2 separate regions of the Homo sapiens genome follow, and region 2 is linked to region 1. Evidence: fine-mapped expression QTL. A gene starts in region 1. The other region holds a variant in brackets. All regions are shown on one strand. Distances are from middle to middle. Region 1 holds the start of MCOLN2 (mucolipin TRP cation channel 2). Region 2 overlaps MCOLN2 (mucolipin TRP cation channel 2).

The links. PIP is the estimated chance that this variant, and not a neighbour inherited with it, causes the effect.
Region 2: its variant is fine-mapped to the expression of MCOLN2 in blood mononuclear cells (TOPMed, PIP above 0.99).

The regions. Positions count from the first base shown.
Region 1 is chr1:84,994,743-84,999,138 of GRCh38, forward strand. MCOLN2 (mucolipin TRP cation channel 2) reads right to left here and starts at 2,371. Exons shown (of 14, transcript NM_153259.4): 1 at 2,054-2,371. The coding sequence starts at 2,130. RefSeq lists enhancers at 854-913, 3,234-4,105 and silencers at 1,714-1,763, 2,374-2,663.
Region 2 is chr1:84,932,364-84,936,759 of GRCh38, forward strand. All of the region lies in intron 11 of MCOLN2 (mucolipin TRP cation channel 2), which reads right to left. Among named protein-coding and RNA genes, the nearest start is that of LPAR3, 41 kb to the left of the region's middle. The variant C/T (reference allele first, on the strand shown) is at 2,136.

The DNA of each region.
Region 1 (4,396 bases):
TTGCTTCCTTATCATTTGTATTTTCACTGGAGTAGCACTTATAATTTCCTTCAAGAACATCTCATATGCATTCAAAACTTGGCTAAATGGCACAAAATGCCTAGCTTTTGGTCTGTCTCAGCTTTCAACATACCTTCCTCACTAAGCTTAATCACTCCTACCTTTAAAGTAAGAGACCTGTGATTGTCCCTTGCACTCAAACACTTAGAGACCACTGTAGGGTTATTAGTTGGGCTAATTTCAATATTGTGGTGTCTCAGGGAATAGAGAGGGTTGGGGAGAGGAAAAGAGATAGAAGAATGGCTGGTCGGTGGAGTAGTCAGAACACATACAACATTTATTAATTGAGTTCCCTGTCTTATATGGGCACAGTTCATGGCACCCCAAAACAATTACAGTAGTCACATCAAAGATCAGTGGTCACAGATCACCATAACAGATATAATAATAATGATGAAAAAGTTTGAAATATTGAGAGAATTGCCACAATGTGACATAGAGACACAAAGTGAGCACATGCTGTTGGAAAAATGGCACCAATAGACTTGCTGGACACAGGGTTGCCACAAACCTTCAATTTGTAAAATAAAATAAAATTGAATTAAATGCAGTATCTACAAAGTGCAATAAAGCAAAGAACAATAAAACAAGGTATGCCTGCACTTTTTTCTATGAACCCCTTAACATGTGACACAAGAGCTCACTAAAGAGTGATTTAATTCTTCAGAACTGACACACGGAACTTAGACCCTAGGCCTTAAAGAAAACAGCCCAGCTTCAGGAAAGTCCACTTTTACTTTTACAGCCAGAAGAGTTTTCTTTGGCCACTACTTTTACTTTGAAAGCTATAGTCACAAGAAGCCATCTCTTTTTCCGCCGGTTTTAAAATTGTCTTGTTCTAGGTTTCACTTCACTGACAGAGACATAGCCAAAGAGATCAGCTTGTGAATATGATCATTCTTGACTTTCAGTTCTGTATTTCGTGCCCCTTTGCTCAAACTATGTCTCTCAGTTCTTCTCACTTGCTTCATTAAAATATTTTATATCTATTACTCTATTTTTTTAAAAAAAAACACTTTTGATATGTTCCTCCTTCACAGAAAAGAATGTGGCTACCTCAAACACTTTATTAGGATTCACTCATTTTTTATTACAGGAGGTTAAATAAAATTGGTATTATGATGGCCTCTGTATGGAAAATGTGTCGTTTTTAGAGTTCCGGCCACAGAAACTGACCTATGAACGGTTTTCTAAAGGAGAAGGGTGTGCCTGTGGAAAGTTCACGGCAACGGGAGTTTGACTCCTCTTAAGGTATGAAGAGGAAGACAGGCTAAAGTCTCAAGAAACTTCTGACTCAATAGGGGAAAGCTATCAAATTTCCCAAAAGTTGTGCGATTTTGGTTAGCACATCACAAAGGTGATGAGCAGCTCCTGAGAGTGAAACCCACATCCCATTTCTGGGGAGAACTACGTAGTTGGTTCCCTCTACATAAAATATCAGAGTCTACATCCTGACACCCATAAGAAACCTCTCCCACCTTTCTCTTACTAACCTTTTCTTCCATTCTCAGTTTACAATGACACACAATTTTGTTTCCCACAAGTACCGTTCAACCAGAGACACACACACTTACACATACGTATATATTTCATATATATATATATATATATATATATATATATATATATGTTTGGAGAGCAGGAAACGGGGGAGCCAAGGTCTGTTTGTACTCACAACTTTGGCTCAACTGTGCTGGGGTGGCTGGAGGTTTGACCACGGAGGAGGGGCCCGCTGGCAGCGCCAACCGGCTGAACTGTGCGCCTTTTCATAAAGGCCGAGGAACTGGGGTTAGCCACACTACAACCCTCCCACCTGAGGGAAAGGCCTGTTTGTTCTGGAAGGCACAGCCTAGCCTTATTTAACTAACTGCAAGCAGTTAATATAAGCATTCCCAAGGCAGCAAGCAAGCTCTAGTCTACGAAAGTAAAGCCATCGACTTTAGGAAGATTTCTCCAGTCCAGCATCCTGAAAGATGAAGCCCAGACTCCTCACCTGACGGTTAACCTGAAAACACCTGATCCTCTCTCCGGAATCCTTGCCTGGGGAAAACGATAAGGCTGCCGGGCCATGCCTCCTCCTTCAAAACTTTCCAGGGCTCTCGGGATTCGGAACAGGAAACACCGTTCACGGCCGACTCATTTCGCCCTCGCCGTAACGCGTCCGCCGAAGTTGGAGCCCTGCAAAGCGGGGTTCCCTTCTCTTACCCTTTCTGCCGGCCGCGTGGTGCGCGCAGACCCCGGCCCGAGAGCAGGCGCCGCAGTCGTGGAGTGCGGCGGGCAGTTCTCGGGCGGCTGAAAGGCGGCTCTGTGTGCACCCTGCAGGATGCGGCGCGTGGCCAGGCGCTCCCGCCCCGCCCCCAAGGGGCTGCCCCGCCCCGCCCCGCCCCGCCGCCTCCTACCGGGGACCGGAGCTTCCCCAGTTGGGGTCCTAGGGGACTTATTCCACGCTTCAGCGGACCAGCCTCCCCGCGCTCCCGGAGAAGGGGGTCGGCGACGCGGAGGCGGGGTGGGGGCCGTAGGGGATGGAACCGAGGCGCGCGCGAGAAGAGCCGAGGAAGTAAGCAGTCCCAAAAGGGGGCGGCGGTGGGGCCCCCAGGGAGGCGTGGGGCACGCCAAGGGCGCCGTGGGGCACTGACCTGTGGTGCGGCCCCCAGGACAGGCCCGAGGCGCGGTTGCACACCGGCAGGTCCAGCACCTCCATGCCTCGAGGCATGGCGCGGCCAGGGAGCGGCAGGAGGACACCTAGCGTGGGACGGCTACACCTGTCTGGGCGCAGGCCCGCCGCCCTTGCACTCTCCACCCAAGTGCCCAACGCTGCGGTACGGCCCGCTTTGGCTCGGGGTGTCTGCCGGAGAAGCGCCTTACAGAGGGACCCGGGCGGTGGGCCCTGCGGCAAAGTGGCCCACGCACCCTCCACACCGCTCCCGGGCGGCCGCACCTGGCACTCCCGGCCCTCTGGGGTTCCTGCCTTTTTCGGGGGGGTGGTGGTGAGACCGGGTCTCACTCTGTCGCCTGACCTGCGATCACTGCTGACTGCAGTCTTGAACTCCTGGACCCAAGCGATTCTCCTGCCTCCGCCTCCCAAAGTGCTAGGATTACAGGTGTAAGCCGCTGCGCCTGGCCCCTTCTTTTCTTCACTCTCTCATGCATTCATTTCTTGTTTCCACATGCATTAATTTGTCCGTTGCTTTGGTCATTCCTGTTTTGATGCTTAGGGAAACACTCACTGAGAGCCAAGCCGACCGTTGGGTACTGTGGTCTCTGGGATGACAAAGACATGGTCCTTTCCCTTGAGGACTTCACATTAAACTGACAAGTTCATTCATTCTGGCTTTTCTCTAAAGTGCACGATCATGAAAGTCTGTGACAAGGGCCATATTTCTGAGATGTTAGAAAGTGCGACCGGCGCGCAAGGAATAGGAAAAGCGAGTTGCCCTGCGCCCGCGTCGGGATGAAAGGCAGGGAGCCGGGAGGGAGCGTCAGCGTGGCCCGGCGGGCGCGGAGGGAGGGCGCACGGCCCCAGGGCTGGACTCGTAACCCCAGCGCCCTGCTGCAGCCGCCGTTGCTTTTCCCTCTTGGTGCACGAAAGGAAGACGCCTGTGGGAAATCGAACAGACAATCGGTCGCCGTTCGTGAATCTTAGAGATGAGAGTCGTCAGTACATGACCAAAAGCCGTGTTCGGCTCCTAGTGATGTTAGCTTGGTAGTTTGGACGTGGCCGACAGCCTCCTAGAGCTCGTACCCCTCCTTTTCACGAGGTAGCAGCAGCAAAGTCCGCAGTGCCAGGCTCTGTGAGTCTGCAAGCGTTTAAAAGATCTCCGGGTTTAGCTCAGGCAAAGAATATTCTGCCAGGTAATTATTTTAATATGCGTGTCCAGGCAGAAGCAGTTGGACAGACGATGTATATAAAAGCACACATAATTGACCCTCTTTTAAGGCACTTCCAAGGGGTTATTAGGCAGAAATGCCTTGGTTTTGAGCCCCTTTCATCGGAGGTGCGCAATCATCCAGCTTTGTGAATAGTAACTGCACTCCAGCCTGGGCAACATAGTAAGACCCCAACCTTTTGGCACCAGGGACTGGTTCCATGGAAGATGATATTTTCCACGGACAGGTGGGGGGATGAGGGGAGGATGTTTTCGGGATGAAACTGTTGCACCTTAGATCAGTAGGCATTAGAGTCTTATAAGGAGCACACAACCTGCAACTTAGATCCATCGCATGCGCAGTTCACAGTAGGGCTTCTGCCCCTATGAGAATCGAGTGGAACCGCTGCTCTCTTGCTCAATGTTCACTTCCTGCAGCGCGGCTTGGTTCTTAACAGGCCACAGACCTG
Region 2 (4,396 bases), 62 kb before region 1:
ACCAAGCCCGGCTAATTTTTGTATTTTTTTGTAGAGATGGGGTTTCACCATGTTGGCCAGGCTGGTCTCGAACTCCTGGCCTCAGGTGATCCGCCCACCTCAGCCTCCCAAAGTGCTTGGATTACAGGCATGAGCCACTGTGCTCAGCTGGCATTTGTTATATAACAGACCATTCCTTGAAAATGCCAACAAAACAAAACTTTTCACCACCCTAACCAGAAAAATGAACTTTTTTTTCTAAATTGCCCTATTTCTGTCAGTGATTCCAATCTCCTACCAAAGAAACATTTACTCTGAAATAATTAAGTCCTTAAAACTCTGTGTTGAATTGATTACTCTTCCCCGCTTTCAGTCTTCTAAGGCCTGTCTGTTCCTATCACATGTTTCTCCAATCCACCCTTACTACTCTACTGTGATGTCAACACAAATTTCTGAATTATTAAAGAAACTTCCAAGGAAGTCTCTTTTACTCCAATCTCTTTACCCTCCCCAGTCAAAGCTGCAGTAAAACCTGTACTTTAAGAAGAAGGCTTTCAGGTCATTTCTCCCTTGTGAGATTATACAAAGTTTGGATGCAAAATAAAAATCTAAACCAAGAAGGTTGTGATAAGTTCCTCCTTTATGCAGCCTCATCACATCTCCTCCTTGACAGTATTAATATGCTGTGCTTATCTTCTCCTCCAACACCAGGCCCATCCCTACATTTTTCCCTCATGGAATTTATTCTCCTCACCTGCTCTATTCTTCTTTCTCTTCTCTGTGTCCAATTAAGCCAATGTTCAAGGGTCATTTCAGAGTGTACTTCAAGACCAAGTGCCCTGGTAGTTCTAGTCCTTTCTCTGCACTCCGTATCGGTAAGAATCACAGAATGAACTATGGTCTTCTAATTGTTTTTATACACACTTCCCTGTACTCCAACTAGATACAAACACCGTGCCTTACACTACCAGCCACGTGGCTGGACCAGGCAAGGTAAAGTTGGTGGCCAAGGGAGAAGGTCTACAAACGCACCCCAAACAAGGATCCCACCCATGGCTTTGCTGCATCAGCAAAAACTCTGATGAACTAAAGTCCTCCTCCAAAAAGACCTAGAGGAAATATCCAAATGAACAGATCACTTAACAATATGTAGATTATTTAACAGTAAAACAGGCGATTGCCAGAGTAAATATTTTCCATACGCTACACAAGCCTTAAAACATTGAAGTTAAAGCTGAAAACATTGACATTAAAGTTGGTTTCTATGGATGTCAACTACAACTCTGACAGCACCATTAATAATTCACATTTCTTAGTTTCTTTTGGAATCCAGTCAACTCCTTTCTCTAGTTTCAAGAACCCCTAACTCCAAGCACAACTGTCTGTGCTTCAGGTTTCAACTGCAAATAGCTAGTTTGTCAGTACATGTCACATTCATTTTTTAATTTTCTGTTTAGTTACTTACCAGGCTACACACAATATCTGTCTCAACATTAACATTATTCATAACCATTTTACCTCCCCCTCCTCTTGTGAACATGAGAATTATTTTAACACACCAAAGAGTTAAAACAGAGACCCAGTCAATTTTAGGTGTTTGGTAACACCCTGCCATTTTGTACAAGAAGTGGCTGTGAACCAGAGTCTATTTCAGTGGCCAAATTCCATAGTAGAAGTGAGCTTAAAAATACTCAAGGTCCTAATGTGCTTCCAGTCTAGAAGGACCACATTTGTAAGGCATTCCTTTGGATCTTGAGTGATCATAAGCCCCTGGAAAGCAGGTACTACTCTCTCTCTGCTTCTTGTTTGTTCAAAACAAACTTTTTGGGCACCTACCATGGTCTATGTGCTGTGCTGGACACTGGGAATGTAAAGAGGAACAAACTACAGTTCCTTCCCTCCAAGAACTTGGTCTACAAGAACCTAGCAATGTTGGGTGCACAGTAGATATTTAATACGTATTAAATGGGTATTTCCATAAAGAGTCCCCATAGGTTCTCTGGGCCCACGATGAGAACTCAACCATTCATTTCACAAATGATAAGTTTGCAGTTGGGCCAAAAACCTTTAATTTCAATGAAACCATAACCTGCAATGGCTTATGTCAGAGAACAACATAAATATTTGCTTTAAGAGCTGGTGCCAAGAATCTCATG[C/T]AAACTTTAGGCAAAATGTTTTAGCTGAGGGGTACTTGGCTAAAACCAGAGGGCTTGGAAGGAGGAAAATGTAATGCAGAGTCTGCTGAACTTTGACCCATGGCATCAGTGAAGTCCAACAACTTTTCAAGTCTTGGTCTTCTCATTTGTAAAATGGGGACAATGCAAGGCTATGATTTATTCCTCACAGGAAAAAAAGTCCTCTGGAAATGTAAAAGCCGCATTAGAGTAATGTTTAATAATTCAAGATGAGGTCTGGAAGAACATCAACAGTCTCTCACCCTCTGTGCCCAGGCATTTTGAAAGGGCACTGTGCCAAAGTCCATTAGTGCTGGGAATACACATCAGCAGGAAGCCTTTTGCATCTTGACTCCCTTTCCATTGAGCCCCTGAAATCAGATGCCTAACAGGAAGATAGGAAGCTGAAGTGTTATGGGACCCCAGCTATCAGTCAAACGGTTTTCCTAATGTCTCCTTTTTAGTTGTTTTGTTTTAAAGAAAGAATTAGCTTTCACAATCAAGGTTGCTGTGATTCTAAAAATCCCACAAAAATGCCCGCTTGGAATGCCTAGCTTTTCAAGGCTTCAGGTAACCTGAAAGTCCTCTGATTCAGATACTGGCAGAACCTGAACATGCTGACAGCTTGGATTAATTTGGGGGAAAGGATGCAAGGGGCAATAAAATATTCTAACTTCAGATTCAAAGAGGCAGCAATATGGTGAAGAAAAGCACAAAGTTCCAAAACCAGACTGACGTTCTCTCCCCCAACTGACTTGTACATTCAGTGAATTAACTCAGCTGTGTATTTCCCCAATATATCAGCCTGGTGAGAGATGCCATAAACAGACCTGCAGGCAACCCTACAGACATCCCTTATCCCTCCCCTCCTCCAGGGGTATAAAGGAAAGCTAACATTAAGTGAAAGACATAAGTCTAGAGCTGCAATGTCCATAGTGGTAGTCACCAGGAATGTGTGAATAGCCAGCATCCAATAGATAGCTAGTCCAAATTGAGACGTGCTATGTGGATAAAATATCCACCAGATCAAAAAGACTAGTATGGAGGAATGTAAAATATTTCAATATTTTATACTGAATACATGCTGAAATAATATTTTGGGTATATTAGGCTTAAAATATATAATTAAAAATAATTTCATCTGTTTTTTTATTTCTTCATGTAGCTACTAGAAAATTTTACAGTATAGGCAAGGCTCTCAATTGTAGCCCAAACTGTATTTTTCTTGGACAGTGCTGGCTCAGAGCATCCCAGTTTCACCTGGATCCTTTGAAAGGACAAATTGAACATATGGAAATGCAGTCAGGCTCACAAAACAAATAACCTCATTTTCCATGAGGTGACCTTGACACCATTGAAAGAATGAAGCCGATTACATGGCTGTCCTCTCACAGTTGATCTCCAAGTACAAGACTGTTTCTTGTCAGGCTAAATGCTCTCTTGCAATGATCTGTTTTAGATAATACCAAGAAAAGCTCTACAGGGTATGGGTCAAAGCACAGGTACTGGAGTCAGGCCGACCTGGGTTTGAATCCCATCTCTGCCACTTTCTAGCTGGGTAATCTCAGGAATATTATTTAATATATTAAGGTGCCTATTCTCTGTAACAGGACAATCAGATTTCTTCACAGAGAAGGGGAGGGAAGGGTTAACACAGCAAGGGAGATGAAGAATCTTGGGCACCATGCCTAACAGACAGCACTTGAGAATGGTAGCCATCTAGTAAAATTCTAGCAATCTTATCTGAGCACCTTCCAGAATAATGATGAGGTAGGGGAGACGGGGATGGGGTGCAAAGGAGATGGGACCACTTGTCCACAGACCTTGGAGTCAGTGAATTAAAGCCGAATCCTCAGGAACGGTATTTATTCCACACAGTGCAACACTGCCCTCTAGTGACAAAGAGGTGGAAAAGCTTTCAGAGCATGAGGCAAGCAAGGAAGAAAAATACATTTTTCCAGGCTCTAAGACAGTAAGTTCTCCAAATCAGAGAGATCATATCAAAGAATAATTTTTTCTCATGAGTCACCTTTAAAGCAGTGACATGGAGTATGAAGAGCAATATTATCAAGATTTACTACCAACCCAGAGGTTGTCACTTTGTTAATTATATAATATCTCAAATAGGAAAAACAGTAATTCTCTCTAGACATATTAAATGTGACACCTAAAAAGAAGAAAGTCTGAGTGTTCCAGGTTACTCGACATTATTCTGGTAGGACAGCACGGAGGTTTAAGATTCA